Regions from separate parts of the Homo sapiens genome. Here region 1 is linked to region 2. Evidence: fine-mapped expression QTL. A gene starts in region 2. The other region holds a variant in brackets. All regions are shown on one strand. Distances are from middle to middle. Region 1 overlaps FERRY3 (FERRY endosomal RAB5 effector complex subunit 3). Region 2 holds the start of RAD51AP1 (RAD51 associated protein 1).

The links.
Region 1: its variant is fine-mapped to the expression of RAD51AP1 in monocytes after Pam3CSK4 (Quach 2016, PIP 0.95). The same link has a PIP of 0.9 or more in monocytes, monocytes after LPS and monocytes after R848.

Annotation. Positions count from the first base shown.
Region 1 is chr12:4,474,468-4,489,561 of GRCh38, forward strand. FERRY3 (FERRY endosomal RAB5 effector complex subunit 3) reads right to left here. Exons shown (of 14, transcript NM_020374.4): 14 at 13,268-15,094. Among named protein-coding and RNA genes, the nearest start is that of FGF6, 36 kb to the left of the region's middle. RefSeq lists an enhancer at 11,676-11,970. The variant G/A (reference allele first, on the strand shown) is at 11,112.
Region 2 is chr12:4,534,725-4,550,152 of GRCh38, forward strand. It overlaps RAD51AP1 (RAD51 associated protein 1), which reads left to right and starts at 4,166. Exons shown (of 9, transcript NM_006479.5): 1 at 4,166-4,232; 2 at 7,160-7,209; 3 at 9,039-9,180; 4 at 11,585-11,694; 5 at 13,368-13,454; 6 at 13,963-14,112. The coding sequence starts at 4,216. FERRY3 (FERRY endosomal RAB5 effector complex subunit 3) reads right to left here and starts at 3,745. Exons shown (of 14, transcript NM_020374.4): 1 at 3,685-3,745; 2 at 1,293-1,495. The coding sequence starts at 1,470. RefSeq lists enhancers at 646-705, 3,380-3,989, 3,990-4,598 and a silencer at 3,725-3,774.

The sequences.
Region 1 (15,094 bases), 60 kb before region 2:
AAAGATTTTATGGATATGACCCCAAAAGCACAGGCAACAGAAACAAAAATAGAAAAATGGGCTTTCATCAAACTAAAAGTTTACATGCAGCACAGGAAACAATCAACAGAATAAAGAAAAAATCCACAGAATGGGAGAAAATATTTGGGGATCATACACCTGATAGGTAGTATGCAAAATATACAGTGAACTCAAACAACTAGATAACAAGAACACAAGTAATCTAATTTAAAAAGGACTTGAGTAGCTTTTTCTAAAAGAAAAAAAAGACATAAGACATATAAATGGCCGAGTAGATGAAAAAAATGCTCAACATCAGTAATCATCAGAAATGACATGAGAAATGTCATCAGAAATGACATCAGAAATTGACAATGAGATGTCACCCGACACCTGTTAGGATGTCTATTATGTATCAGAAAGATAGGATAACAAATGTTGGTGAAGATGTGGAGAAAAGAGAATCCTTGTACACAATAAAATGCAAGGAATATAAGAATATATACTCCCATATTCACAATGGAATACTATTCAGCCATAACATAGAATTGTGAGGAATATAGGAATATATATTCCTGTATTCACCATGGAATACTATTCAGCCTTAAAATAGACAGCAGTCCTTCCATTTGCAACAACATGGATGAAACTGGAGGACATTATGCTGAGTGAAATAAGCAAAGCACCGAAAGGCAAATACTGCATGATGTCATTCATATGTGGAACCTTAACAAGTCGAACTCATAGAAGCAGGGAGTAGAATGGTGGTTACCGAGGGCTGGATGAAGGGGAAGAATTAGGTAGATGTTGGAGAAATTAGGGGGGGAATTAGGCCGATGTTCAATTAGACAGAAGGAATAAGTTCAGGAGGTCTACTGTACAACATGGTGGCTACAGTTAATGAAAACATCTTGCATACTTGCAATAGCTAACAGAGTCAATTTTAAATGTTCTTATGACAAAAAAGTAAGTATATGAGGTAATAAATATGTTAATTAGCTTGATTTAGCATTTCCACCATGTATACATCTATCAAAACATTTGTAAGCCATAAATAGTATAATTTTTGTCAATAACAATTAATTTTTAAAAGTCTTGCATCCTTAATATTCCCTCTATTTTTCAGGTTTTTCTCTTCATTACTCGTAAATCTTTTCCTACTCTTGTTTCCACCCAATAGTCCTTACAGGACAACACTCCACCACCCTGTGCCAATGATTTATTTTTCTCTGATTTATTAATAGTAACAAGCAAACCCTTATATAGCTCTCCTTATATGACAGGCAGTGTTATAAGTATTTCATGTATGTTCATTCATTTAGTCCTCAGAACAAGATCATTGATTCTCATTATCCCCATTTCAAGGAAACCCAGATAGAAGTTCAGTGACATGCCCAAGGTCAAGGCTCAATTCCAGATAGTCAAGCACCAGAATCTGTTCTATTAACCACTGTGACATACAACCAGTTTGGGGGAATCTCTGCTCTCTCAGCTTCAGCTTCCACTGCTCCCAAATAGTCCCCTTTCTCCTCTCCCCAAATATAATCCCAACACTGAGTTCAGAATTCCTAAAACAGAAGTCAGGAGAGGATTTTAGATTAGCTTCCAGTACTGCTTAGGCTAGGGAACACAAACGTCTGGCCGTGCTCTTGGCATGAGTGAGGAAAAATACAAGGAGAAAAAGATACAGATTATTATTTCAATAAATTATCCCACTTCATGGATGAGGTGAGAATATCATGGAAAGGAGGTGGCACTGTGACCGATTCTGGCCCGGGTCCCCAAGCCTCTGAGTCTGTTAGCTTGCTTCCATGTCCAATTCTATATCACACATAATCATTCCTGCTCTTGTAGCTAGGGTAATCTGCTTGAAAAACAATTTTATCCCATGAACTCTCTGTTCAGAAATATTCAGAAAGATGTTATCTGTTCTGGAATTAGATCATGGTGATGGTTACATAACTTTGTGAATATACTAAAAACCACTGAATTTTACACTTTAAAAGGATGGGTTTGATGGTGTGAATTAAAGCCTAATTTTGAAAAAGAGGAAAGGTATTTTATCATCTCCCCCTTTGGAGTTAAATTCTGGATCTTCAAGATCCACAATATGATCCTTCATTATCTCTCCAGTCTAATTTCATCTCCCACTATTCAGCTGTCCTTTCCACTCTCCACACCCAGTCCTCCTCCACATCTCTGGTCATGTCGTTTCTCTTAACTAAAATCCTTTTCTCCTCCGCTCATCTCTATCTCATACTTTCCTCAAGATCAGTTCGAGCCCTACTTTTCTGAAAACTAGTCTTTGTTAATTTCTTCGGACTCTAAACACTGTTTGCTTTTATAGTATTCCAGCTTTGGCATAAATTTTAGTATAACGACAGTTCCTTGAATGAAGAGACCCTTCTTTTTCATCTCTATAACTCAGCATCCTGCACAGTGCCTGGTACTGAGTATACACTTTGAAAAGTGAATGTATAAACTGCATTTTTACTAATTTCTAAATGGTTCATATGTGCTTGTCTTGTTTCTTCAACTTGACTGTAAGGTGCTGCAGAAAGGGTCTACATCTCTATTTGAGATTTAGCACAAGTTCAGAACAGGACATATGGTTGACCCCTGAGTGAGTTAGACCCTTCAGCTGCTTAATTACCTGATGTCTTGGCAGACAGAGTTGTGCCTTTGACATTTTATTGGTGGTGCACTGAAAAGGGAGGACACTGAACTGGCGGAGAGAGTCCCCAGGATGCCTGGCTGAATGGTGGTTGCTCCACCCTTAACCACAAATGGTTCATTGTCCACCACTTTTGGCATTTGTAACAGTATTTGGAAAGAGATGTAGCAATTTCCCCCCCAGGGCTTATTTTTAAAGTCAGTGGCTGAGAGTGCTTGTCGGAAGTGGGGTCAGACAGAGCTGAGGGCTCTGAGCTGCCTGGTGGATGGGATGGGTGCTGCCCAAGAAGAGATATAGTGGTTGGTCCTTAATTTTGGACCTCTACTGCCCTGGGAGAAAAGTCCAGGCCAAAGGAAAGGGATGACTTACCCAAAACAGATCACAGCTTCCATGGAGATACAACTACACTGTCAGCCAGTGTTTTGCCAACCCTAAAGTTTTAAGACTAGGGCTGGGTCAGCCCGAGGGCTAGTGGGCTTCTACTCACTCAATGGGAAATGTAAGTTTTATTGAGGGCGCTATGTGCCTGGTAGTAGTACTCTGCTAGGCACTAGAGATTAAAGTGTAGACATGGCAGTTTCTGCCCTTGAAAAGATTATAGACAAATAGGGAAAGCCAGACAAATGAAAAGATAAATATATTAGTGTGGTAAGTGCAACAATGGTGGTAGAGGGATAAAGGCTCTTTAATTCCTTAAAGAAGTGGCATCCAAATTGAGGCCTGGTGGTGAATTGAAGGTAACCAGATCAAGGAGGGAGATATTTCAGAGAGTAGATTATGCAGTACTCAAGAAATGAAAGAAAATGTCATCTACACAGATCTGGAGGTAGTTCAGTTGTGTAAAGCAGGGGATCATCATATAATAGCCCATGAGCCAAATCCAGCAAGCCATCTGTTTTTGTGATTAAAGTTTTATTTAAACACAATCCCACTCAGCCATTTGCATATTATCTATGGCTGCTGTTGCACTACAGCCACAGAACTGAGTAGTTGCAATGGACAACACATGGTCCTCAAATCCTAAAATAGTTACTATGCTGGTCTAGAGAATATTGCTTGGGGGAAGGAGTTGGAGAGGTAATCAGGAGACAGACCAAAGAGTTCACTCTTTATTTTAAAAGCAACATAGGAGCAACTGACATGTTTGAAGCAGGAACACAGCATGATAATATTTGAATTTTAGATAATTATGGTGAGATTAAGAAAGAAGAAGAGGCAAAACTGGAGTTGGAGAAACCAGTTTGAAAGATGGCATATAGGCAAGAAATAATGGCACCAATTATTTCTTCAATTATGAAGGCACCAATGGGATGGAAATAAATGAACAGATTTGAAAGATGAGGATTTGGTGATCAGCTGTGGGACTGTGTGAGAGGGATGGTACTTCAGGCAAACTTTCCATTTGGAATTTTTCTAAGATGAGAAAGAAGCAGTAGTGACCCAATAGCTCAATGATACTATTAGACTTCTCTCATTTACATGAATGTTTCAGTCTTTCTTGTCTCACAATATTGTTTTTCCCCAGTCTACTTAGACTCAATATTACCACTTCAGTGGAATGTAGAAACCTTGTCACCATATAGGTTTCCATTTATGTTCTAGGTGTTCTTTGCATAAATATCTTGAAAATCTCATTAGATAATGTTATAATTTTTGCTTTCAATAATCAAACATACTTTAAAGAACCCAAGAGGAAAATATTGTATTTACTCAGGCATTTACCGTTTCTATTCCTTTTCCTTCATTCCTCATGTTCCAATTTTTATCCTGAAAGTCATTTTCCTTTTGTCTGAAGAAATTCCTCTAGCAATACTTCCTTTAGCAGGTTCGCTGGCAACAAATTCTCTTAGTTTTTCTTTCTTGGAGAATGTCTTTATTTCCCCTTCATTCCTGAAGAATTTTTGTACTGGATATAGAATTCTAGATTGACAGTCTTTTAGCGCTTTAAAATTGTTCCACCTCCTTCTGGCTTCCACAAGTTTAGATGAGAAATCTGCAGTCGTTCAAATTGGTGTTTCCTTATGAGTAATGCATTGGGTTTCTCTGGCTGCTTTCAAGATTATTTTCTTTGTCTTTAGTTTTCAGTATTTTGATTATTCACTAAATTTGGAGAAATTTCAGCCAATATTTCTTCAAATATATGTTTTCTCATCACTACATCTTTTCTCTTCTTTTGGGACTCCAATGTCATGAATTTAGAACTTTTTGTTTTTCCCATTCAGCCCATGAGGCTCAGATCATTTTTTCATTTTTTTTCCTCTGTGTATTCAACGTGGAAATTTTTTATTGATCTATTTCCAAGTTCACTGGCCATTGACTCTTCTCTTTGTCATCTTGATTGTGTTTCTGTTCCTATCCAGTGAGTGTTTTTTTTAATTTTGGAGATTATATTTTTTATCTCTAAAATTTCCATTTGGTTCTTCTTTAGATCTATTTCTTTGCTAAGAATTTCTATTGTTTTACACATTTCAAATGAATTTTAAAAGGGCTTTTATAATGGCTGTTTTAAAGTCTTTGTATTATAATCCCAACATCTGCCATCTCAGAATTACTGTCTATTGATTGTTTTTTCAGAGTTGAGATTTTTTCTGATTCTTTGTAAGGCAAGTAATTTTAGTTTGTATTCAGGTCATTTTTACTATTGTTATGAGACTCTAGGTTTTCAGTCCTATGGAGAATGTTGATATTTTTCTCTAGCAGACAATCAACCAGTCTGTTTCAGGCCACACATTCAGACCGACCTCTTGTGGGTTATGGTTTCAATGTCATTCCCATTTTCAAAGACTTTGCAGTGTTATCTGAATTTGTCTTGCATGTGTGTCACTCAGTAGACAGTCTAAAACCTGGGTGTAGTCTAAGCTCTCAAAAGCTTTGGTATGAAGTTTAGAATTAGATTCATGCTGGCACATCTCTAGTGTAAGCCCAGGAGTTCATAAACAACTCTATGGGTTGGCTTTCAAACTCTCCCTTTCTATAATTTTCCTTGTATTTACCTTGTGTCTCCCATTTTCAGCTTTCTAGACAGAAATCCAGGGCTTTAGTTTCCCACACTCAGTTGTGTTCATCCTGTAACTCCTGCTTTTTGGTTTTGTTTGTGTTTTGTTTTGTTTCCTCAGCCTGGGAAAGCATCTTCCTCTACTCTTTATCTGGCTAATTGCTACCGATTTTTCAGGTCTTAGTTTAAATATAATTTCCTCCTAAAAGCTTTGTCTTATTTGCATATCCATTATATTCCCCTTGTTATTTTCTCACAGGACCCATAATAATCTATAATTTCATATATAGTTGTTCATTGATTTTAATGTCTCTTCTGCTCGACAGAGGATGAGATTATCTGTCTTATTCAGTATTATGCAATGTTTCCAGTATCTAAAACAATGCATGGTACACAAAAGATGCTCAATAAATATTCATTTAATGCATAATTATATTCTTCCTTTCGTCCATGCATCCAACTTTCCATGCTCTGCCTCATCCCCCAAAAAATATGAAGATTGTCACATTCAAATATGAACCTACTCTCAACGATCAAAGTAAACTATATCGTTTTGTAACTTGATAATTTGTAAAGCATTCTTATTTTTTTCTTGTGTGGCTTTATGAATTAGAGAGAGGAAAATGTATTAATCATACTTTATGGGCAAATTAACTGAGATTCAAAGAGATAAAATAATTTGTCCTAGTCACAGCTAGTAATGAAAGTGATGGGTAGGGCTTAAATGACAGGTTAGTTGGTTACAAAATTTTAAATTGGCAGTTATTTTCTCTTAATGCTTATTATTTTCTGGTGCTTATTGTTGCTGTTGAAAATTTGTAGTCTTTAAAATTGTCATGCAAATCTCTCTTTATTTGATTCTTAAAAATTTTTTTAGAGACTTTTAAGATTTACCTTTGTTTTAGGTGTTCTGCAATTTTACCACAAAGGGTCTAGCTGTAGATTTATTTTTCTTTTTCTGCTTAGATGTCAACCTGCTTCCTGAATCTGAAGATTCATGTCCATCAATGTTGGGAAAGTTTTAGTCATGTTTTGTTACTGTCTTCTACCTGTTTCTGTCTACACCCCTAATAAAATTGGATGCTTACCTCACAATATTCAAAAGTGAATCTCAAATGGATTAAAGGCCCAAATAAGAAAAAGCAAAGTGTTAAAACTCACAGGAGAAAATATATGAGTATTTAGCTACGATACTAGGGGTAAGAAACAGTATCTCAAGTGAGATATAAGAAGTTTAAACCATAAAGGAAAAGATTGATATGTCACATCAAAATTTAAGACCTCTGCGAAAATAAAACATAATAAAAAGTAAAACAACAAACCACAGCCTGGGAAAAGAAAAGAGGTTTTCAAGAATACCTAATAAAAGTTTAATATTTGGGGCCGGGCGTGGTGGCTCAAGCCTGTAATCCTAGCACTTTGGGAGGCTGAGGTGGGTGGGTCATGAGGTCAGGAGTTCAAGACCAGCCTGGCCAACATGGTGAAAACCTGTCTCTACTAAAAATACAAAAAATAGCTGGGCGTGGTGGCGAGTACCTATAATCCAAGCTACTTGGGAGGCTGAGGCAGGAGAATCGTTTGAACCCAAGAAGGGGAGGCTGCAGTGAGCCAAGATCACACCATTGCACTCCAGCCTGGTTAACAGCGTGAGATTCCATCTCAAAAAAAAAGTTTAATATTTGGAATATAGAAAGAATGTCTGCAAATTCAATAAGGAAAGGGAAAACAATGGAAGAGAAGAAAATGGACAAAGGATTCAAACAGACAACTCATGAAAAGGGAAATCCACGCAGGGAGTGGTGGCTCACGCCTGTAATCCCAGCACTTTGGGAGGCTGAGGAGGGCGGATTACCTGAGGTCAGGAGTTCAAGACCAGCCTGGTCAACATGGCGAAACCCCGTCTCTACTAAAAATACAAAAATTAGCTGGGCGTGGTGGTGCACACCTGCAATCCCAGCTACTCGGGAAGCTGAGGCACGAGAATCACTTGAACCTGGGAGATGGAGGTTGCAGTGAGCCAAGACTGTGCCACTACACTCCAGCCTGGGTGACAGAGCAAGACTCTGTCAAAAAAAAAAAAAAAAAAAAGAAAGAAAGAAAAAAGAAAAGCGAAATCCAAATGACCAACAAATGTGCCATGCTGCTCAACATCGCCACTAACCAGGGAAATGCAAAATAAAACAGTAACGAGATACTATTTTATACTTATCAGAATGGTAAGAATTAAAATTTCCAAAAATTTCTGCCCAGTCTATATGAAGAAAAAGGAGTGTTCACACATGCCATTAGAAGGAAAATTTGGTACAACTATGGAGTTAAATTTGGAATTTCTTAAATTTTAAGATGTCGATAATCCAGAAACTCTTTTCAGAGATATAAACCATGGAAAAACTGTAACATATGTACACAATGATACATGTACAAGAATGTAGTTGCTGTGGCACAGTATGAAGTGACACAAAAGTGAAAGCAACCTCACTGTCAATAAATAGGAGAATGAGTAAATACATAAATTGGACTATAGGCATATAATTCAGTCTTCAAATATACTACAGCCAAAATTAGTAAAGTAGCTATATGTATATTAGCGTGATTAAATCCCAAAAGCATGATATTGGATTCTTAAAAATGCAAATGTTGAATGATCTGTAGAAGATAAAGCTTTCAGTACAATACTATATACATCTTATGGCTACACTCTGTGGATATGCATTAAAACTATAAATTAACCTGTAAGAATGAATAACAACAAAGTCAAGATAGCGGTTACTGCCAAGGAGAGACTATGACACATTGAAGACAAAAATATTCCCAGTTCTTCTCCTCATCCTGTGTTCATGCTCTTTTCAATGTGACTTTTTAGCACTTCTCATCAAAATAAGGAGTCTATTACCCCACCTCTTGAGTCTGGGATGGCTGTGTGACCAGATTTAATCGACGACAGAATGTAGTGGAAGTGATGGTGTGTCAATCCTCTTTTCCAGCTCTACTACCACTATGTAAACACGTCTGGGCTAGCCTCACGGAGGATGGCTCACAGTGAAGAAAAGTCCAGCTGTGCCAGCAGAGGTCATTTATACCAGCCTACAGCCAGCCAACCCCCAAACATGTGACAACGCCTAGCCCAGATAATCAGAGTGGCCTACTCGACCCACCACTGACCAAAGACTCAAAAATGAGCCCAGGCGAGACCAGAACTGCTGAGGTGACCACCCGTAGAATCATAAAGAATAAATGCTTATTGTTTCAGCCACTAAGTTTTGGAGTGGTTTGTTCCTCAGAAGTAGCTGATACAAGGAGAGGCTAAAGCTACAGGAGCAAAAGAGAACCTGCATCTGTGATCTTTTATGTGATAAAAAAGACAGCCCTAAAGCAAAGGTGGCAAAATTTTAAGCTTGAACAAAAACAAGTAGTAGGTACATGGTTATTTGTTATAATTTCTCTAACTTCTTTTTATCTTTGAAGTATTTCACGATAAAAGGAAATTCAGATAGCAGAGTCAATGTGCTACACTAGCCAAGACAGCCAAGATGATTTTTAAAAAGAAAAAGTATTTATCCTAGTGCCCCTCCCCCATCCCCATCACCACACACATAAAGTAGACTAAGTAGATTAGTGATTTCTGAGTTCTGATCCTCTTCTCTCATCCCAGGACATCTCCTCTACACCTTCCTAGCATCTAATCCTCTTGCCTCAGTTGCTCATCTGCAAGACAGCAAACACATGATCAGCTTGCTGACAAGAGAGTCCTAAGAGTTGAACCAGGAAAGCATTACAGGGGCAAGTTGTTCATTCAGCTGCTATGTGGGTAGGAGACTTTAAATTCCATAAGTACTTCATACTATTGTTATTTCTAAAATCTAGATTCACTTCATATAAAAAATATGATAGTCCTTCCTGCTCTACTCAAATACAGGGTTAGTCACCTACCCTGTGACTTCCTCCTGACATTCAGATCCTTTGTATCTGAAGTTGTTGCCATTGCTGGCACAGGTGGCATTCTTCCCATCTGCCAGGAGGATTTGTGCTTCACCTGTTGAGAATAATGAGGGTTCAGAGGATACTCACTCAGTGCCAGAGAAAGGCAGGGATAAGCAGTCTGCTTTCAAGAGGCTCAACATCTCTCTTGGCCCAACGTATGCTAATGTTTCTATTTTGACTTCCATAGCACTCTGTGTATGCTTTTTTCTGCACTGACTGTATACCTCTAGTATATGCTAGCTGGTACTGTGGTTACTGTGTGTTTTCCTACCAACTCAATTGGGCTGTAAGCTTCTTGAGGACACGGTGTCTTAAGTGACTTAGCATCCCTTCTATCTAGTGAAAGGAAGAAAGGGAAGAAGGAGAAAGGTCAGACAGGAAGAAAGGAAGGAGGAGACAGGAAGGAATGAAGGAAGGAAGGATAATAGCAGCAAATATTTATAGGATGACTATATGCCAGGTAATGTGCCCTTCTTATGCAATCCTTCCAACCACTCAATGAGGTAGATACTATTATTAATTTTCCCTAGCTTACAGATGAGGAAACATGCTTAACGGGATTAGGTAATATGCCCGATGTAACAAGCCACAGCAAATAAACTGAGGAGTCAGCATTTGAATCAGGCTTAACTTTAGAGACTATGTTCCTGATCTCTGATGTTATATTGTTGCTCAGAGTAGAGACTTTTGAGCACAGATGAGCTGATACCAGGAAATGAGAATTTATTATAAAGAAAGAAAAGGAGAGAAGGCTAGGGAGAAAGGAGGAGACATGCATCAGTACATTCTCCTCCTGCAGATGTCACACCTAACGTATGACAGATGACAGTACAGTTTCTGCTTAATTCCTGAACATGTCAAGAAAGGATCTGTTTGCTTCTTTGGTAACGTGTTCCAGGTTTCATTCTCTATGCACCAAAAATATCTACGAATAGCTCTTGCACCCTCTTGCCGGTGAGAGAAGACACATACAGTCGACTCTCACAGTTCACAGTAGTTATGTTCGATAAAGATGCTGTGAACCCTGAATTAGTGAATACTAAATCATTGCTCCCAAGGGAGACAGAGAGTTAAATTCCTGCAAGGCTCTGACCACAACAGTCTCATCAGCCCATCAAGATATAATCTTGTTTTATGTGTGCTACTGTTGAAAGACACCTTATTTAATACCCATCACTGATTCATTATCATTGAACTTTTGACCAACAGCACTACATTGCCTACCTGGACAGAGCTTATCTAGACATGCGTTGTCTTCATCAGGGACATCACAACCTTCTTGCACTTGGGAACACCAGATAGCACTTGAGCACTACACTTGGACCATTTTGAACAACAAAATCACCACAAAGCAATGGAAAAAAAAACATGGTGCTAAACAGACCCATGAAAGGGACATTTATTTGCACTATGAAAGCTAAAATAAGGCAGCAGAGCATCACCTTGCTCCATCTGAGCTGG[G/A]AACATATGTGTTGGGCGACTCAAACATTTTGGTGCTCTGAACATGTCCACAGATAACCTGAAAGTGCTGCCAAAGGCCCTGCTTTTTATTCTATTGGCCAGTTACAACATCTACGTGACTTTGGGGTGATGAATCTATTGTCTTTGTAAATGACTGTATGCTTTTGTAAATGTCTTTAACAATTTCGGAGTTACAAATAAATTTTAGTGAATAGGTGATTGCATAAATATGGTATCTTCAACTAATGAGGATTGACTGTATATAGTATGAAGTTCAGCCAGCCTTAGATTTGGATATATGAGAAAGCCTCATATGTCTTCGATTTGGACATATCCAGAACCATTTTCCTGTAGGAAAACAGGAAATGAACCGCAAGAGAGAACTGAAGTATATGGTAATTTTATCTGTGTATATTTAAATAGGACATTATAAGCACATATTGGTCCTGCAGGCACCTCAGGAGGTTACTCCTCCTTTCCCCTGCTTTAGCTGAAATTTTATTTTAGTTATTAGAGATCATCAGCATCACAGATTACAGAAAAGCCCGCCAAGTCTTCTGTCTTTACAAGTCCCATTGCCTTTGTATAACCTTCTAGGGGCTGAATCTTGCTTGCACTATGCCTTTGTGTATAGAAGAAACTCAGTAAACACTGGCTGTTTATTGAACGAGATTCTCAGGGTCAATCTGCTATTTATGTTTTCTTGATCTCTGCCGTCCCTTTGTAACATATTCTCATGTAAATATTTCTGCCCAAGGTTGTGGTTCCCAGCTTGGGGTTCCTGGAATTAGTGATCCTTTAAGATATTGAGCTATAAAGAATCTCTCAAAAAATACATTTCACTTGGATGATGTCCCACAGGTTAAGTCAAACACCAAGGCTTTGTTTTTGCAAGTTTGCCTGGAATTACACAATGATAATTCTATGCATTTTATGTGGTAATACTAGGCATGAGAATGCACAGTGATAATTGTAGGTGATAATACTATGTACCATTTGCTAATCAGAAGCTTCTCTCCAGACATACCTGTCTTTGATTTAGTAAAAAAGATTGCTCAAATAATTCCAATTGTTTATGTTCTCAAAACATTTCGGGCAAAGATGTGATGGATAATGAAAGATTCTTGAACAAAGGATAGAAAATCACTGATTTAAAAGGTCCTGAAAACATGGTACTTTTTCCAAATAGGTGTTGTATTCTTTTTGCTTCACATTTATGATTTTTATACTTCTATTACTCCTACTGAGCAAATCAGTCCCACTTCATATAAATGGAAAAACTTAAGTCACAGAAAAGCAGCCATTTTCACCTAGAAACTGAAAAATAGAAAATAAAAAGAAACTGAAAAATAGGCCTGAGGCTCGTCTCTAACTTTAGTGGGTTCTTTCTACAGTTCTGTGAATTCTCCCTTAGAGCCTCTAGAAAAGAAATGTTTCTGTGATTTCATCTTTCTTTTGTGAAACATGTTTTCTTCTTGTGAGAATTAGCCAGGATCCAACTGAAGTAACACAAATGATGGTGTGTACTGTGCCAATAAGAGATCTGCCAACTCCCAGGCAAGCTCAGTTTCTTCCCGCTGAAATTCTTTTTCATGCATTTCTTCCATTCTGGTCACACTGTCATGCTGAGAAACAGCTGGTGCCACACTTCTAGATCAATGGCTTTGCTTGTGTGGTGCTTCGAGAGCAGAAATGGGGGAAGGGGGGGAAAGAGCAGCACAGAATGGAGACCTCAGGTTCAGTGCCTCTGCCTGATTTCCAAAGCACACTCTTAAGGCCTTGAGGGCCATTTAGGAATATGTAACTGTTTATACAAATAGAAAACTTCTAACTCACAATCCTCACCAATGTCAATGTTTGTGCTAATCTCCCCATCCTCAAAGACTCTCGTGGTCAGCTCCTCTCAACTTACTGGCCATTTACCACTGCCTCCATTCTGCTTCTGCTCCTATCTGCGCCTTACTCAGTTGTCCCTTGGTATCTGCAGGAGACTGGTTCCAGACCCCCTGCCAATATCAATATCCCTGGATGCTCCAGTCTCATATAAAGTGGTGTAGTAATTGCATACAACCTACACACAGCCTCCCATATACTTAATCCGTCTATACATTACTTATACCAAATACAATGTAAATGCCATGTAAACAGATGTTATATTGTATTTTTAAAATTTTTATTGTATTTTTTTTCAGAATATTTTCCATCCACAGTTGGTTGAACAGAGTGCCATCTGTACCTAGAATGCTGTCTCAGCCCAAGGTACCTTCTTCACATCATTCATGAAGTGCTTTAAACCACTCCCCCTCAAGAAGCCCTTTAGAACACTCAGAAAAAGATCCTCATCTCATAATTCTTGGTCCAAATACAAAACTCCAGACTCCTCAATTACTGCATCACTAAAATTCCCACCATTTCAGTGCATATAATTAGCTTTTTAAGTTATATATTTATTATTAGCTTGGTGTTTGTGTGTTTCCATCAGTGGTAACACCATAAACATGATTCTTCCAATTTTACTACTTCTGTAACACAGTTGCATGTGGAAAACGGACATTCGATAAATTTATCCTGACTTCACATGCCAAATAGTACCTTTACACAGCCCTCAGTTAAAGCCACCAGTTTATAAGTAACTTAGTGGAATAGCCTAGAGGTGACAAAGGAAGAGTTGGGCAGCAGCATTCAACAAACATCCGTGAATGAAACTTTGCTCCTCCATTCCGATATCTGGGCTGCACTGATCTACCACTCTCCTGGTTTCTGCCTCTGTCTTCCCTGCTTTGCATTAGAATCAGTCTCAGTGATTAACAGTGGTGCCTGAAAGACAATTTCTCCAAGAGAACTGTATAGGCTCTAAGGGCAAAACACCTGCCTTCTTGGCAGAATCGCCAGGCTCCCTGACAAATAATTTGGAGAGTTTTAGTGTCTAATGGACATACTGCTGGAGTGGGTGTTCTTAGGGTTGTCTTTAGTGTTGTTACCTGGACAAACCTTTCCCTCGAGTAGAAAATTAAGACACATTCTGTTATAGGAAAGCACTCTGCTTGCCAACAGTTTCTATAATAGTTATTACACTGAGGCATATTAATGAAGGGCGTTTTGTTTCTTGTCATCAAGACATGCCATCTTATGACACCAAATGCCCTCCATTTCATTCTTGTGGCCAGTTACAATATCCACATAACTTGGAATTGATGAAACTATTGCTTTTCTAAACACCTGTGTGCTTTTGTAAATGCCTTTGTTTAATGGAGTTACTACTTATAGCATTTAAATATGTTATAGATGGGACAAATATATGATATGTAGCACCTGAGAAAGTAGTACCATAAGGAAAAACAATGGAAAAGGAGGGGAAACAGAGAAGCAGAAATGGGGATACATTTATCCGCAAAAAAATGCAAGAGGTAGAGGAATGGTTAAGCAAGCTGAGAACGCAGGGAGGACAGAAATGTAGAAATGATCTTCCTTGTGTGATTGTCACAATGTTGATGAGCACTAAAATACTGCCAGGTGCTGGTTTAGACTAACTTGACATCAAGCTTGCAAAAAAGAACACTATTTCCCAGTCCATGAAATGTTATTAATATGCAAGTGCAAGGGCACAGCGGGAGGATGAGAGAGAGGGAAAAAATCCAAAACGTCTTCTGACTCTAACTTGTACATCCTTAGGAGTAGATTAAAAAGAGATTCTGAAACAGGAGAATTTAAAAGAACAAGCACATTTGTCTTATACATTTGTGTTTCTATAAAAAGATTTTCACAGGAAATTTGTACTTGCAATGTATATTTCAGTGCTTTTACATTTTGTTTTGGCAAAGAAAGTAAAAGGAAAATTTTGTTTGTATGTTTAATTAAGGATTGCACCTGAGACGAGTCAAGCCTCTTGAAAAAGTCAAATGCCTCCATGTAAATATAATCAAGTTTCCTTTCCCAAGTGTCCATGTGTGATAAATAAAAAGTTTTAGATTACTAATATTCAC
Region 2 (15,428 bases):
TGATACTCTTAATAGAATCTCCAACTAAAATGAAATCAGCTTAGGGGATCATTTAACTAATTTCATGATTATTTTCCTTTACTATTACAGGCTATTGCATAGAGAAAGGTCAAAAGTCTTAACTCTTACGTATTCCCTTGATACTAATAAAGTAATGTTACTTTCTTAAGCCTGATATTTCAGTTTGAAGCCAAGTGGGTATAAGGACATAAAGAAAATGCTACAGATTTTGAAGGTCTGAACATTACTGTATTTACATTAAAAAGAGTTTTCCATGTAACTTTAAAGGGTACATTGTTACATCCTTTGAAAGAGAAGTTAAATGACTAGCTTATTAACACATTTAACTTAGATGACTGACCGATTTCAGTTTTACAGACACCACTTAGAGAATGATATAACGGAAGAGCACTGAGAGAGAAGTTAGGACACCTGTGTTCTGGCTTTGGCTCTATTATTATCACTATGTTCGCGACTTTAGACTGTGGTTCACAATCTTAAGTGTGCATTAGAAACCCCTGGAGGCCTTATTTAAACAGACTGCCACATGCTACCCTAGTTTCTGATTCAGCAGAAATGGGATGCAGCCCGAGAATTTGCATGTCTAACAAGCTTGCAGGTGATGCTGTTGCTGCTAAATGATTAGAAACCATATTTCAAGAACCACTGCCTAGGGTAAATAATTTAACCTCTTTATGTTCCAGTTTCCTTGTTTGTACAATGTGATTGGGCTATAAAGTTTCTAGGTTCTCTTATAACTCTAACCTGTGATCTAACATATTCTGAATTTTAAATTTTTCCTAGACTGTGAGATAGAGCACAGACCTTTAAAAATGGTTTAATACATCTAACTTTATAAAACTAATTTAGGTAAGCAAAGACTATTCAAAAATTAGTACACTTTCTGTTCTATGGCATCTCAGAAATTAATGACCAGATTATTAAAAGGGCAACCAATTTAGCACTATAATTCTATTAGCACAATTAGCGATAGCTAAACTGCCTTATAACTTCACCCAACTAAATTCAGAAGAGCTCCTCTAATTCCAAACTTTGTAGCTAATTTTTCATTATAAAATCTAATTTTTATATTTTATAAACAACTACCACTTATAGGAAAAAACACTCAATAAAAGAAAGCTCTGGAGAAATGTTTTTATTCTTGGAATCAGTTCCTATGTTATGGCTGTTTCCAAAGCTTCTTAGGTTTATGCTTTCTAATATGAAACTTCCAATGACAGACTATTGAAACTAATAAAGTGGTGTTACTTAAAAAAAAAAACAGTCCTCACCTTTTTCTATAAAGCACGGTAAACTGTGCAGCAGCATCAGACGTCCATGCAAATGACTGGCATTCTCTTGAACAGGAAATTTGAGTGGCACTCTCAGTTCTAAGCACTGACTTCCTACTTTAAATTTATATACAAATTCTCTCTCTCTATTGCAGAATCTTTCTCTGTTTTTCTTCATATTCTTTGACAGGATTTCTACAGAACTAACAAAAAAGCAGTAGGTTATAAGTCCATAAAGAAATTATGTTTCATTATTGCTGTCCCATTTCTAAGAAAACATTCCACCATTCAAGAGATTTTGTCTATGAGCCAATTATTCTAGTTTTTCCCAAGTGTTTATCCCTGTACTTCCATCTTCATGATGAAAACAAAGTGCTTCTTTAAAAAAAAAAAAAAAGACACTTTGTTTTAAACTTGATTTAAGAAAAAAAATTATGGCCATAAAGTACTTTATATTCCAAGGCAGGGTTCTCAATAATAGGGAAGGACCATGGAGAGAAGAGCAGAGAGAATTCTTAGGGAGAGTTCATGGGTGGGGAAATACAAAGCTTAAGAAACCGTTGGTAAAAAGAAAGTCAAAGAAGCAGATCAGGGACCAAGGAGTGATCCTGGAGAACTTAGAGGTTGTGGTCATGAGATCCGACTGGGGGAAGGGGAGTAAGAAAGTGTTAGAAAGATTTCCATGTGGGAAGAAGATACACAGAAAAGAGAGAGTACAGGACCTCCACTTCCGGCCCACACCCCAAAGGCAAACTAGACACTACTAAGGAAGAAGAAAATCTAGTTAAAGGCAGTAAGAATCAACATCAATTAAAGATTTATTTATTCATCAGCCTTGTAACTGGACTTCCTATGGCTAGGCTTTCTCCCATCAAATCAGTTCTTACATTATTTTCTACACTGAAGTTATAGTAATCTTCCTTTTTAAAAAAGGAATATACTTATCTGATCATGTTGTTCATCCGCTTAAAAACTTTCTATGACATTCCATTGCTCTCAGGATAAAATGCAAACTCTTTATCCCAGTTTACAACACCCCTGCTTATATTTCCACTCTTCTCTCAGAAACTGCACCTCTCCTTCCTAATACACAAATTCACAAATTTTATTTTCCAGCCATTCTGAACTTCTGTCAACACCAAACTTCTCCTTCCATGCCGAATCTTTTTGAATGCCTTTTCCTTTGCCTAGAGCACTCTTACTGATCTTAATTTCATTGGATAACAATTGCTAATTCTTCAGGTCTCAGTTAAGCCTCTAGGAAGACTTATCCAACTCCCTAAAACTGGATTGGGTCCCGACAGGCTCTCATATTAGCCTAGACTTATTTGAATCATGGCACTTATCACGCTCTATTTCTTACTCTTGGCTAGAAAACAGTCTTCTTGAAGTGGAAGGAATACTGTCTTGTATTCCATGTATTAGGCAGGATGTTGCGAATGGCAAGAACTAATAAATAATTGTTGGATTGTATGGCGTTTTTATTTTATGGTGCTCACTGGAAAAATAAAGAACAAAAAATTATTCATACGGTTATTTAAAAAGATATCACCTGAAATATAAAAAAAACTCAAAGGACTTTTGTACATGTCGTGGGGCGGGGCTAAGTTGAATTATCCAGACTATATTTTCAAATCTGTATGTAGGCTATACACAAAAATCTTCGTCTATTTCACCATAATGCAAAGAGATAGGGTATTTGTTTTACTCAGAAAGAATTAAAATTAAACGTAAAGCAATACAAATTTTTATAATGTTAGAAAACTACCAAAACTACATAAAGGTATATTCTATGATGTAGAAATTTCATTCCTAAGTATATATCCAAATACACACACACGCATATGTTCGCTAAAGTACACCCAGAAGAATGCTCATATAAGTTTTATTTATAATACCCCAAACTGGAAACAACCAAAATGCGTATTAGTAGGAGAATAGTAAACTTGTTTATTTTATGAGATAAATACTACACAGCAATAAAAAAGAATCAACCACTGATAAATGCAAAAATATGAATGAATCAGGAATGTTGAAAAAAAAAAGAGAAGGCAGACACAAAAGCTCTGGTTCAACATTTAGACTTGTGTTTCAAGAAACTGATAACTTTAGTTCTTTCTCCTCTCGCTCTTTTTTTAGACTAATGGTCTATCCTGAAGCCTGGGTTCAGTTTTAGCAACCGTGAAATCCAGGAAGGTTTCCCATAAGAAAATGGGATGGAAGGTCTGGACCGAACACACACAGCCAACAGAGCGGAGGCTCTGAGGCTCACATTAATCAGGGAAAAGGAAGACAGACGGTCGAGCTGAGAAACTTCAGCCGGGTGAGGGGACTAATCCCTCTGTAACGGTTGTCAGTCTGAAAGGGCATCCTCACTCGGTTCTGGGCTCACCTCGTCTAGTTCCGAAGTCCTGGGCAGTCCGCTCACTCGAGCTGTCAGCGCGTCCTGCACTGGGAAACCAGCTGACTTGCCGACATACTTTTTCCACACCGCGGATCCGCGAACGTAGATTCGCCACATCCTTTTCTATTTCCTGGCATCTTGTAGAAAATTTCTCAGTCCAAGTGCCCCTATGTCCCAACCTGTTTCAATTTAACAATTTGAAAGGTGCAATAAGGTGTATTTCTATTGTTATTCTGTATTTCAGAGACAGGGCAAATCCGCCGTTGTGACGAAAGTGCAGGGACAAAGCACAAACTCGGCTCTGGTGGACCGGATACGGAAAAGCGGTGCCTTGGGGAGGGCGGGAGCAAATTCGCTTTCCCCACAGCGCGTGCGCCGCCGCAAGCATGGCTGGTGATGATTGGACGACTGGTAACAGGGGGCGGAGGGCTCCGAAGTCTGGTTTTGGGCGGGAATTGAAACCGCCGCTGAAGCCAACAAGAATTTGAGAACTGTAAATACCAAGCCTTGAAAGGGACCATGGTGCGGCCTGTGAGGTGGGTAGTTCCTGACATTCGTCGGGGGTGGGAGGAAAACTAAGGGAAAAGACATGAGACTAAGGGGAAAGGATCGAGTAAGACCGGAGGGCAGCGATGGTGGGGTTAGGATGGACGGTTATCAAGAACCCAGTCTCCAGTGAGAGCCACCCGTTGCTCAGAAGTATCCTAGCATCGTAGCTTTTTCCTTCTCTTTGCCTCCCTTCACAACCGTCGCCGTTTCTTTTACCAAGACCTTGTTAGCGTTTGAACAGCGCTTTACATTTCACCGAGCGCCCAATTATGTGTTATTTTATTTGTTTATCACTGTAGTTATTTGATATAGAAAGAGTAAGCATTCCTGTTGTATTGATTTAACATTTCTACGTATAGAGGGTAAGTTATCTGAGTCATACAGCCCAGTAAGTGGCAGGGCAATACTCAAACCTAAGTCATCTCACTCAAGATCCTCTGTGCTTTCCATCGTGGTATTAGAAACGATTCTTCTATTTACACAGTTGAGTGCCATGGAAGCCTATAGTTAGCCATTCATTTAATAAAGTTATTGAATATATTCACTTCTTTAGTGTACGAGGTGCTGGAGGTTACATTCCAGTGGGAGGTGAGGTTAGGGGGCCGAAAATAAGCCTCGAAATATGAGAGTGCGAAAGAGGAAAGCACTACTTTAAATATAGTAGTTAATATGTGACTCTGAGGCGATAATGCATGCACTGAGTCATGAATCAGGGTAGAGGGAATAGGAGCCAAGGCCCCATACTTGACCATATTTTAGGGACAGTCTAATGCTATAGGATTAACAAGCAGTGGGGAGAATCGTAGGGGGATTAGGCCAGAGAAATAGGCAGGTGCCAGAACAGATAGGGTCTTGTAAGTCTTAGAAAGGAGTTTAGGTTTTATTTTAAGTCAATGGGAAGTCAGTGGAGGGTTTTAAGTAGGGGAGAGGAATCTAAGTTTGCTTTTATAAAGGTCACTGGCTGTTGGTGGAGAATAAATGATGGATAGGGTGACCAGAACGGGAGCAGGAAAATCAGGTATTATATCATTGGAGAGCGGTTTGGGATAGGGTATTATTAGTGGGCATGGAATGGAACAGATGAATTTGGGATGTATTTCGGAGGCACTGTGGACAGAACTTGCTGATGAAGTAGATGTACAGGTAAGGGAAAGAAAGAATCAGAGATGACTCCACAATAGTTTTGGTCTGAGCTACAGGATGGATGATCTTTGTATTAAGATAGGGAAGACTAGGAAAAGGAAGGTTAGGAGGTGTGAGGGATCAAGATTTCTGTTTCGAACATGCTGAATTTGAAATGGGTTTTAAGCATCCAGGCAGTGGAGTCATAATCCCTTTGTAAGGAACAGCAGTTGTTAAAGTATGGTCTACAGACCTCTGTGGGTCCCTGGAAACTTCTCTAGAGGTCTATGAGGTCAAAACTCCTTTCATAACAATACTAAGATATGATTTGCCTTTTTCGCTGCTTTGTCATTTGCACTGCAGTGACCCCGATAAAACTGCTGGCACCTCAGAACAATTAAGGCAGTGGCACTAAATTGTACTACTAGTCTTTGCAATGTTTACTGCCATACTCTTAAAAGTAAAAAAAAAAAAAAAAATCATTTCAGTTAAGAATATGCTTGATGAAGTAGTGGAAATTATTATATTCATCATAGCTTAACCCTTAAGTATACTAATTAAAAATAGGCTATTGATTTTATTTTACTATTATTCAAGTTCAGAATTTATAAAGGGGTTTTCACATTTTATTCAGCTCTAACTTCTTTAACTCTGAAGAGTAAGAGAGTAATATGAGTGCACTTTTTAATAGTTTGCGTGAGGAAACAGGAAGTACACATAAAGCACTTCTGTATACTGATGCGTGATAGTTATCTCAAGGAAAAGCACTTGTGAGATTGTCTGAGTTGTGAGCTGAGCTTACTACCTCTTTTTCATAGAACATTCTTTTTACTTGAAAGAACAACCAGCTGACAAATTAGGTTATTCACATTTAGCCATTTGACAAAAATATAGAAATAAAAACTAGAAAAACATTTTATTTAGTGCCTAGAGGAGGGAGGAAAAAATTATTTTTTTCACTTTGAATATCATTTTCTTCTAATGCCCTCTGAAGTAGTACAAGTTGAGCATCCCAAATTTGAAATGCTCCAAAATTTGAAACTTTTGCAGTACCTACATGGCACTCAAAGGAAATGTTCATTGGAGCACTTCAGATTTTAGATTTTCAGATTTGGGATGCTCAGCTGGTAAGTATATAATGCAGATATTCCAAAATCTGAAAAAATCCAAAATTCAAAACATTTCTGGTTCCAAGCATTTCAGATAAGGGATACTCATCTCAGGTGGTAGGAACAAGGTCACTCACCATTTTTAAGTGTCCGTTGCATAAAAATGTTATTTGGTATGGTGGAGAGATTGAAAAGAAAGTAGCTTTTAGTGTCAAGAAATTTATAATCTAGTAAGGAAGATAGAATGCACACACAAAACAGAAGAACACGTACAACGGGAACTTACAAATGCCCAACAGCAATTAAACAGTATAGCAATTATAAATGTTAATTATGTAGATTATTCTTTGTAAGTTACCTGAATTTTTTTCCTTTATCATATAATTGAAAAGCCAACAATACCCAGGTATATCAGGTATAGTTGTAACTATTTTAGCTAATGATAAATCCCCGCGGTAAAATGCAAATCATGTTTTAGAGTTAAATATTCTTACTTGAACCCAAACACATTTTCATTTATTGAAACACATTTCATTTAACACATTTTTATTTATTTCGTTTATTCATTATTTATTAATAAATGAATAATATTAAATAAATAAATAATATTCATTAATAGCCTTAAGTAATAGTGGTGAGAAATTGACATTTGTGTTAATGAAAAAATTCTGTTTTGGTCATAGACATAAGAAACCAGTCAATTACTCACAGTTTGACCACTCTGACAGTGATGGTAAGTAAAGCTTCTTATTTTTGTTCTAAAGATTTGGAAACTCATTTCCTCGGAATTTATATGACATATATAGCTCAAACACTGACTAAATTGCCCAAATGCATATGAGGTAGGTCTGGAAAGATAGTTTTCTAATCATTTGGGATAATTATGCTGATAATTATACTGATAAAAATTATGTTAGTAGGTGATAAATGAACAGGCCAGGTGAAAAGTCTCTTTAGATCTAAACTACTCTAAAGTCCATAGTTGCAACATAGAGGTTTGTCTCCTATTCCATCCCTGAAGAAGGAAAACACTGTCTTTTTGAGATACAAAGATGTTACAGCATATTATATAAAATCCCTATTAATTGTACTATAAAACAAGACCTTGAAGAAAGGTTAGGCTTATGTTATGCCTTTTAAGCATTAGTCATATGTTTACTTGACTCTGCTATGATTGAAAAGTTTGAGGAACATTGCATTAGATTATGTTATATGTTGAAGTGGATTTAATATTTCTTTCTTAGACCACTAGAGTTTTCTGTAAGTCAAATATTTAGTAAGTCTTCGGTTTGAAGGAATCTGTTTTTGCCTTGAGCACAGCCTTAACTGTATCTACCACTTGGGAAAAAGAGTGTAGAGTATAACATCTAGCTTTTTTTTTTTTTTTGTCATCAGTCTGTCATCAGATACTTATAAATTGCCAGGTGTGTAGTAGTAGGTGGGGGGAGTCCTAAGTTATCTTATTTTTACATGGGGAAGCATATAAGAGACAACAAGTATTAGTGCTTGCTGAGTATGTGATGAAGACTGCATAGACCCTGAAAGTATGCATATATGTGTTGTATACATGTGGAAAAGCCACAGCAGTAGTTTTACGTTGACAGTCAAGAGTAGAACTACAACAGTTCAGAGGATTGGTAAGACAGAAAAACCTGTGAGAAACAGTAATGGACTGGAAAAGAACATCCTTTTGCAAGAAAATAAGAAGTTACTTTGGTAGGATCTTAGGAAGATCATTATGGTAATGGAAAGAGAAAATACTACTATTGTAAAAATCCTCAAATAGGAGCTACTTTCTCTTCCCCCCATAATGCTTATTTCCTCTAGCATGGTTAATGTACTAGGAATAGGTAATGGGCTTTTTTTTCTCTTTTTTTTGAGACGGAGTCTCACTCTTGCACCTAGGCTAGAGTGCAACAGCGCGATCTTGGCTCACTGCAACCTCTGCCTCCCAGGTTCAAGCGATTCTCCCACCTCACCTCCTGAGTAGCTGGGATTATAGGTGTCCGCCACCATGCCTGGCTAATTTTTGTATTTTTTAGTAGAGACAGGGTTTCACCACTTTGGCCAGGCTGGTCTTGAACTCGTGACTTCAGGTGATCTGCCCGCCTTGGCCTCCCAAAGTGCTGGGATTACAAGTGTGAGCCACTGTGCCTGGCCCAAGTAATGGGCTTTGAAAAAAGATATTTGGCTACATTGTGAAGTTCCCATAAAAATAATTTATTTCCACTTTTCAATGTGATTAAATTCTACCAATTTTTCTAATGGTTTTACAGGTTTTTAATCATTTTTTCTTTGACACTTATATGCTGTCTTAATTGCTTTTGCAGTTTTTAGTGAATTGGTTTTTGATAGACTGATATTTTTAAATATAAAGGGCACAAAAACAAAAGTCGAAATAGATAAATGAGAGTAAAGATAAACAAAATACTAACAATGATTTTTAAATTGTGGAAATTAAACAATTTGCCTAGCCTATAAAAACTTGAACACACATGGTAATGATTTTCATTTATGAAGAAAATAATATTTTTCTTTTGGTTTTAATTCACACATGAATAGATGATTTTGTTTCTGCAACTGTACCTTTAAACAAGAAATCCAGAACAGCACCAAAGGAGTTAAAACAAGATAAACCAAAACCTAACTTGAACAATCTCCGGAAAGAAGAAATCCCAGTACAAGAGAAAACCCCTAAAAAAAGGTGAGAGGTAAGACATGCAGTAAATATATGACATTAGATGTGTTAATTTTAAAGAGACACAGATTCGAACCCTTGATTTAAATTAGAACTTGGGCAGAGTCATAGGTCTTATTTTACTAGGTGCAGTCAGAAAACAGGACGTACTATTTTTTTCTGGCTTTCTGACTTAAAGAAATTCACAAACATTCAAGGAAGTATCATTAAATATTAAGACAATAATGATTGTAGAATTCAGAAGTTATGACTGGTTTTGACAGGACCCAGCACTTATCTCTGAATTCCTCAAATCATACGAGACTACTTTGTTAAAAATGACATTAGATGACTTAAGATGATTAAGACACAAGATGACTTAATATGAGGACAGTTTTTAAAATATAAAACCATGTATTTTCTTGCAGAAAAAGATGTCTTCTCCCCATGTTGTTAAGATTTATCCAGCAGTGAGAAGTTCCCATAGTTTCTAGACTAACCGTGGAATTCCATTAGATAGTATCAAGAGGCAGAAAGGAGTGAAGGAAGTCCTTAGAGACCCAAAACTTGCAGTATGGAGAAGAGATGGGCGGAAGGGGAATATTAACAAATGGAACATGGCATATATAATGTTTTACTGCCACAAGTTTCTCTATGAAAAGTGAGTTAGCCTGGAGAAACTTACCTCATGTCATGCTCTTTTTTGCTTTTCTTTTTTTTGGTTTTTGTTTGTGAGTTTCTTGTATTACATTTTAAATATATAGAAAAAGGAACCCACACGTGGGAGAAAATATTTGTAAATCAGATAACTGATAAGGGACTGTATCCAGAGTATACACAGAACTCGTAAAACTCAACAGTAAAAAGACTAACAACACAATTTAAAATGTGCAAAAGATTTCAATAGACTTTCTCCAGAGAAGATAAACAAATAACCAATAAACACATGAAAAGATGCTCAATATCATTAGCTGTGAGGGCAATGCAAATCAAAATCAGAATGAGATAATACTTCACACCCACTAGATGACTTAATACAAAAGACAAGGAATGTGGAGAAATTTGAACCCTCATATATTGCTGGTGGGAAAGTAAAATGGTGCAGCTAAATTGGAAAATGGTTTAGCAGTTCCTCAAAATGTTAAACAGAGTTATTACATGACCCAGCCTATGTATGTATCCAAGAGAAATGAAAACATATGCCCACACAAAAACCCATACATGAATGTTCACAGCAACATTATTCATAATAGCTAAAAAAAAATGGAGGCAATCTAAATGTCTATCTGCTAATGAATGGATAAGTAAAATGTGGTTTCCACAAAATGGAATATTTTTCAGCCATAGAAAGAAATGACAACTGATAACTGATATATACTGCAATATGGATGAACCTTGGAAACATCATTCTGAGTGAAAGAAGCCAGATATACAGGTCACATATTACATGATTTCATTTGCATGAAATGTCCAGAATAGGCAAATCCATAGAAACGGAAAGCAGATTAATGGTTGCTAGGAGGGGAGAGGGGTAAACAGGAAGTGAATGCTAATGGGTATGGGGTTTCTTTTTGGGGTAATAAAGATGTTCTGAAATTAGGTAGTGTTGGTGGTTTTACAGCTCTGTGAATGTACTAAAAACTGCTGAATTGTTTACTTTAAAAGGTAAACTTTATGATATGTGAATTATATCTTAAGAAAACTGTTATTCTAAAAAAATAAATTCTTTAAGGTACATCTCAGTGCTTCTTCCTTTATGTAACTTTTCCTTATCTGTCTTTGACGTTTTCTTCCTCTTATACTCCATAGCACTTTTGAGCAGCTTGAATAGGACTTTATAGTCTGCCTTTTATAGGATAATTATTAGCATGTCTTGTTTCCCCACCCTCCTCCTTTAATTGCAGACTCCCTGAAGGTACTTTTAGTATTCCAGCTAGTGCAGTGCCTTGTACAAAGTAAGTGCTTGGTAAAATATTTGTTAAAGTCTGGATTGGGAGGAAGAGATGTAAAAAAATGATAATAATTTTAATTTAATGTAAGAGCTATAAAATCTGCTAAAGGGGAGTGGGTGAGGTCAAGGAAGAGTTTTAAGTGGAAGTGATGTTTGAACCAAGTCTGTTTTGGGTTGAGTAGGGTGTTTCCCACCTGGACACAGCTGGTAGTAAGGTGACACATTACAATGAAAGGGAACAGTCATTGCAAAGAGGCACATGGTCCTCCTATTTCAAACCTCTTATTCTGTATGTAACATGATACTGTGACATTTTAGGAGTCTTATCTTATCATCAAAGGTCTATTAATGATGATTGTTTAAAAACATTTTTGCGAAGTTAGCAACTCTTGAATAGTAATTTGGAGAAATCTCAAACTTTGCTCTTTAGTTGAGATTGATATTTTGAAGAACTCATTATTACTTGTGTATCTATTTTAGGATGGCTTTAGATGACAAGCTCTACCAGAGAGACTTAGAAGTTGCACTAGCTTTATCAGTGAAGGAACTTCCAACAGTCACCACTAATGTGCAGAACTCTCAAGATAAAAGTAACTTTATTTTCTGTATATTTAGCTTTAAAACCTTCTTAATGCTTTTGTGATTATTTGTTTGGGTGGGCCTTCACAGAGGAAACAGGTAAAATGTGAATACTTTGCACTATAAATAGACCCATTTGCAGAGAATACGATTGGATTTAGTTCTTAATTCAGCTGCCTAAATCTCATACAAACAGACATACATCTCTGCTTAACACCCAGAATAAGCTTGAGGGCACGGACTGTGAGCCTCAGTGTTCGAATTATATGTTGTTGTACAGTGAACATTTAATTTCTTCATCAAATGATTTGATCTGTACAGTCCTAACAATCCATCTCCATTTTTTCCAGATCAGTTAAACATACCCTAATTATGGTAATTTTTATTACTTACAAAGGTCAAAGGTATTAATTTGGTTAGCAAGTTCAGTAGACTTAAGAGAATGGCTTTTGGATTTCTCTGTTGATTTTCTCCTTTGATTTTTCTGGCAATATATTAATATTCTAGAGAGGCAGAAATCATTATTCCTGAAAAAGATACTCTACTGCTAAAATGCTTTTTGGCTTAAAGTTTTTATGTTGGGGGATATTTTAGCTTATTATCTTATTTAGGGGTATACATGGAGCTTTTTTCTTTGTTTCTTAAATCAGTACTGCCTCCTTATTTATTTATTTATTTGAGACAGGGTCTCTCTCTGTCATCCAGGCAGGAATACAGTGGCATGATCATGGCTCAATACAACCTTGACCTCCTAGGCTCAAGCAGTCCTCCTGCCTCAGCCTCCTGAGTAGCCGGGACTACAGGCATGTGCCGCCATGCCTGGCTAATTTTTTATTTTGTAGAGAGGGGTCTCACTATGTTGCGCATGCTGCCCTCAAACTCCCAGCCTCAAGCAATCCTCCTGCCTCAGCCTCCCAAAGTGCTGGGATTACAGGCGAGAGCCACCTTATCTGGCTGCCTCCTCTTTAAAAAGAAATGAAAGTTTGATTAGGAAGACTTTTAGTAACCAAGAATCAAAGAAACATCAAAAGAGAATTATCATGAATTACATTTAAAATGGAGGCACTGAAATTCATCTCTCTCTTTTAAGACATTGTAGAATGTATAAGGGGAGTTCCTTAGAAGTATTAATATTATACCATTTCTTATTAAATAATGCACCTTATAGCATTGGAATTTAATAGTACCAATTATTATGTCTTAAAGTCCTCTTAGAATGCTTTGGGTCATTTTAAGGTTATTATAACGATTGGAGAGTTCTTAACGTTAGTAAAAGCATGGATTTGCCTACACAGAATTGATAGTTTATTGACCATTTCCTGTATATTAGGCACAATAATAAGCAATTCCTATGTGAGATCCACATTTGGTCTTCTGTAATACCACTGGGTAAGACACTATTTTTATCTCCACATTATAGATGAGGAAATTCAGTCTTAGGATAAGCAACTTGCCCATGGTCATATAGCCAGTTTACATGGTAGAGCCTGAATTTAAACATGTTAGATTTCAGAGCCCAGACTTCTAACCATATGTTAACCTCTCTGAATAAAATTATTGTGCCAGTTGGAGTTTGGGATCATTTATTTATATCTAAATGCTATTACATTTTAGTACTAATTTTCCTATATCTAGACATTGATTAAGATATATCTGAATTTTCTTTCTTATTCCTTATATTTAGGCATTGAAAAACATGGCAGTAGTAAAATAGAAACAATGAATAAGTCTCCTCATATCTCTAATTGCAGTGTAGCCAGTGATTATTTAGGTAAGTTTTTTATATTAATAATTTTTCTCATCAACAATGCTGTTTCTCTGACTTTTGTTTAAATTGCTGAAATTGTGGCTAGAAGCAAGTTCTTTAAATTTGTCAAGACTCTCTTGATGTCATGGCCTTTATTTCTTTGTGTTTTAGTCTCATTCTGTCGTACTGCAGACACACATTCTTCCCTGAAGGGTCATAACTACCCGTGGCTTCTAGTTGGAGCAACTGACCTTTGAAGAAAGGGGCTGCATATTCCCAATTCTAGTTTGAAAATTTTGGGGGAAAGATTATCTCTGTTTGGGTCTTGGATTTATCCCTAAAACTAGAGGTGTTCCCAGGGCACTGATGTACCATGGTTGACCCAGATTGGGCTAATAGTCTATTACTGGAAGCATGGGAGGGATGAACCTGGGCAAATAAAAACAATAGCTGTAATAGAGTCTGGTCTGCAGTTCTTGAAATATCAGTTGTCACAGAAAGTTTTCCATTGATTTTTATGCCTCTCCTGAAGATTTGGATAAGATTACTGTGGAAGATGATGTTGGTGGTGTTCAAGGGAAAAGAAAAGCAGCATCTAAAGCTGCAGCACAGCAGAGGAAGATTCTTCTGGAAGGCAGTGATGGTGATAGTGCTAATGACACTGAACCAGACTTTGCACCTGGTAGGTTTTATTCTACTTCGAAATTAATTCTATGGGAATTCAGTCAAAAAAGTTCTTGGAAGCTATTAATTGTGCAAAGCACTGTGTTAAACCTTTGGGGTGTGCAAACTTCAGGGACACACAGAACAGTTCAATTCAGTGATAGCATTTGGGGAAAAAGTTTTTTCTACGAGTTAACCTTTAAGCTATGCCTTGAAAAATGAGTAGCGTTTCAACAAACTAAAGGTGTAAAGTAGCATTTCTGACTAACAGAAAGGCATTACCTGTGGAATAGACAAATGCTCTATTTGTCTCTAACTGAGGCTTGCTGGGATGAACATGGAAGAGGCTCGAGAGGGAGGCTGGTACTAATCAGGGAGGGTCTCAGACCCACTGGAAGAAGTGTAGGCTTTTTTTTCCTGGAGGTAGTAGAAATCCATGAATTATTCTGAGGCAGAAGTGATATGAAATCTATATTTTATTATGATGGTTTTTAGACTCATTTAGAAATTGGGCAAATGGAAAGTGTAGTGACCTTGACAGAACATTATAACATATTAATTAAAAATTTAAATTCATAAATTCATAAATGTAGGCCAAATCAAGATACCATATTTTAGATTTTGATATACTATCAACAAACAATAACAGATTTGCTCATCGTCACTTATTCGACTAATATTTGAATGCTTTTTATGTGCATTATATTCTAGATACTAGGGATACAATAGTGAAAAAAACAAACAGCTCCTGTCCTTCTGGAACAACGGAAATACATGAAAAAAGACTGTTTTGCATTTGTTTTACTTTGGGAGGGCCTGGGAGACAGGAAAATGCAAAGACACTCTTTGAGCGCCAATGTGATGCTTAAAGGAAATACTCATTTGAGCATTTTGGATTTCTGGAATTGGAATGCCCAACTGGTATAATGCAGATGTTCCAAAACCCAAAGAAAATCTGAACCCTGAAACATGTCTGGTCCCAAGCACCTCAGATAAGGGATACTCAGCCTATACTATATGATCTAGCAATCCACTTCTGAGTATGTATCCAAAACGATTGAAAGCAGGATCTCAGGGAGACATTTGCATACCCGTGTTCATAGCAGCATTATTCATAATAGCCAAGAAGTGGAAGCAGCCCCAAAGTGACATTTCAGTTTTCCCCCTGCATTCGCTTGTCCTGGATGAGAATAGAAAGGACCATGTGTGACCTTCATTAGGGAAAGAAAAGAGAAAATTGCAGAGAAGATAAGTCTTTTCTCTAACAGTTCCCAAAATCCGTAACTGAAGTGTTTGGGCCTTCCAGATTTTCCTCTATGGGATGCGAATGACTTG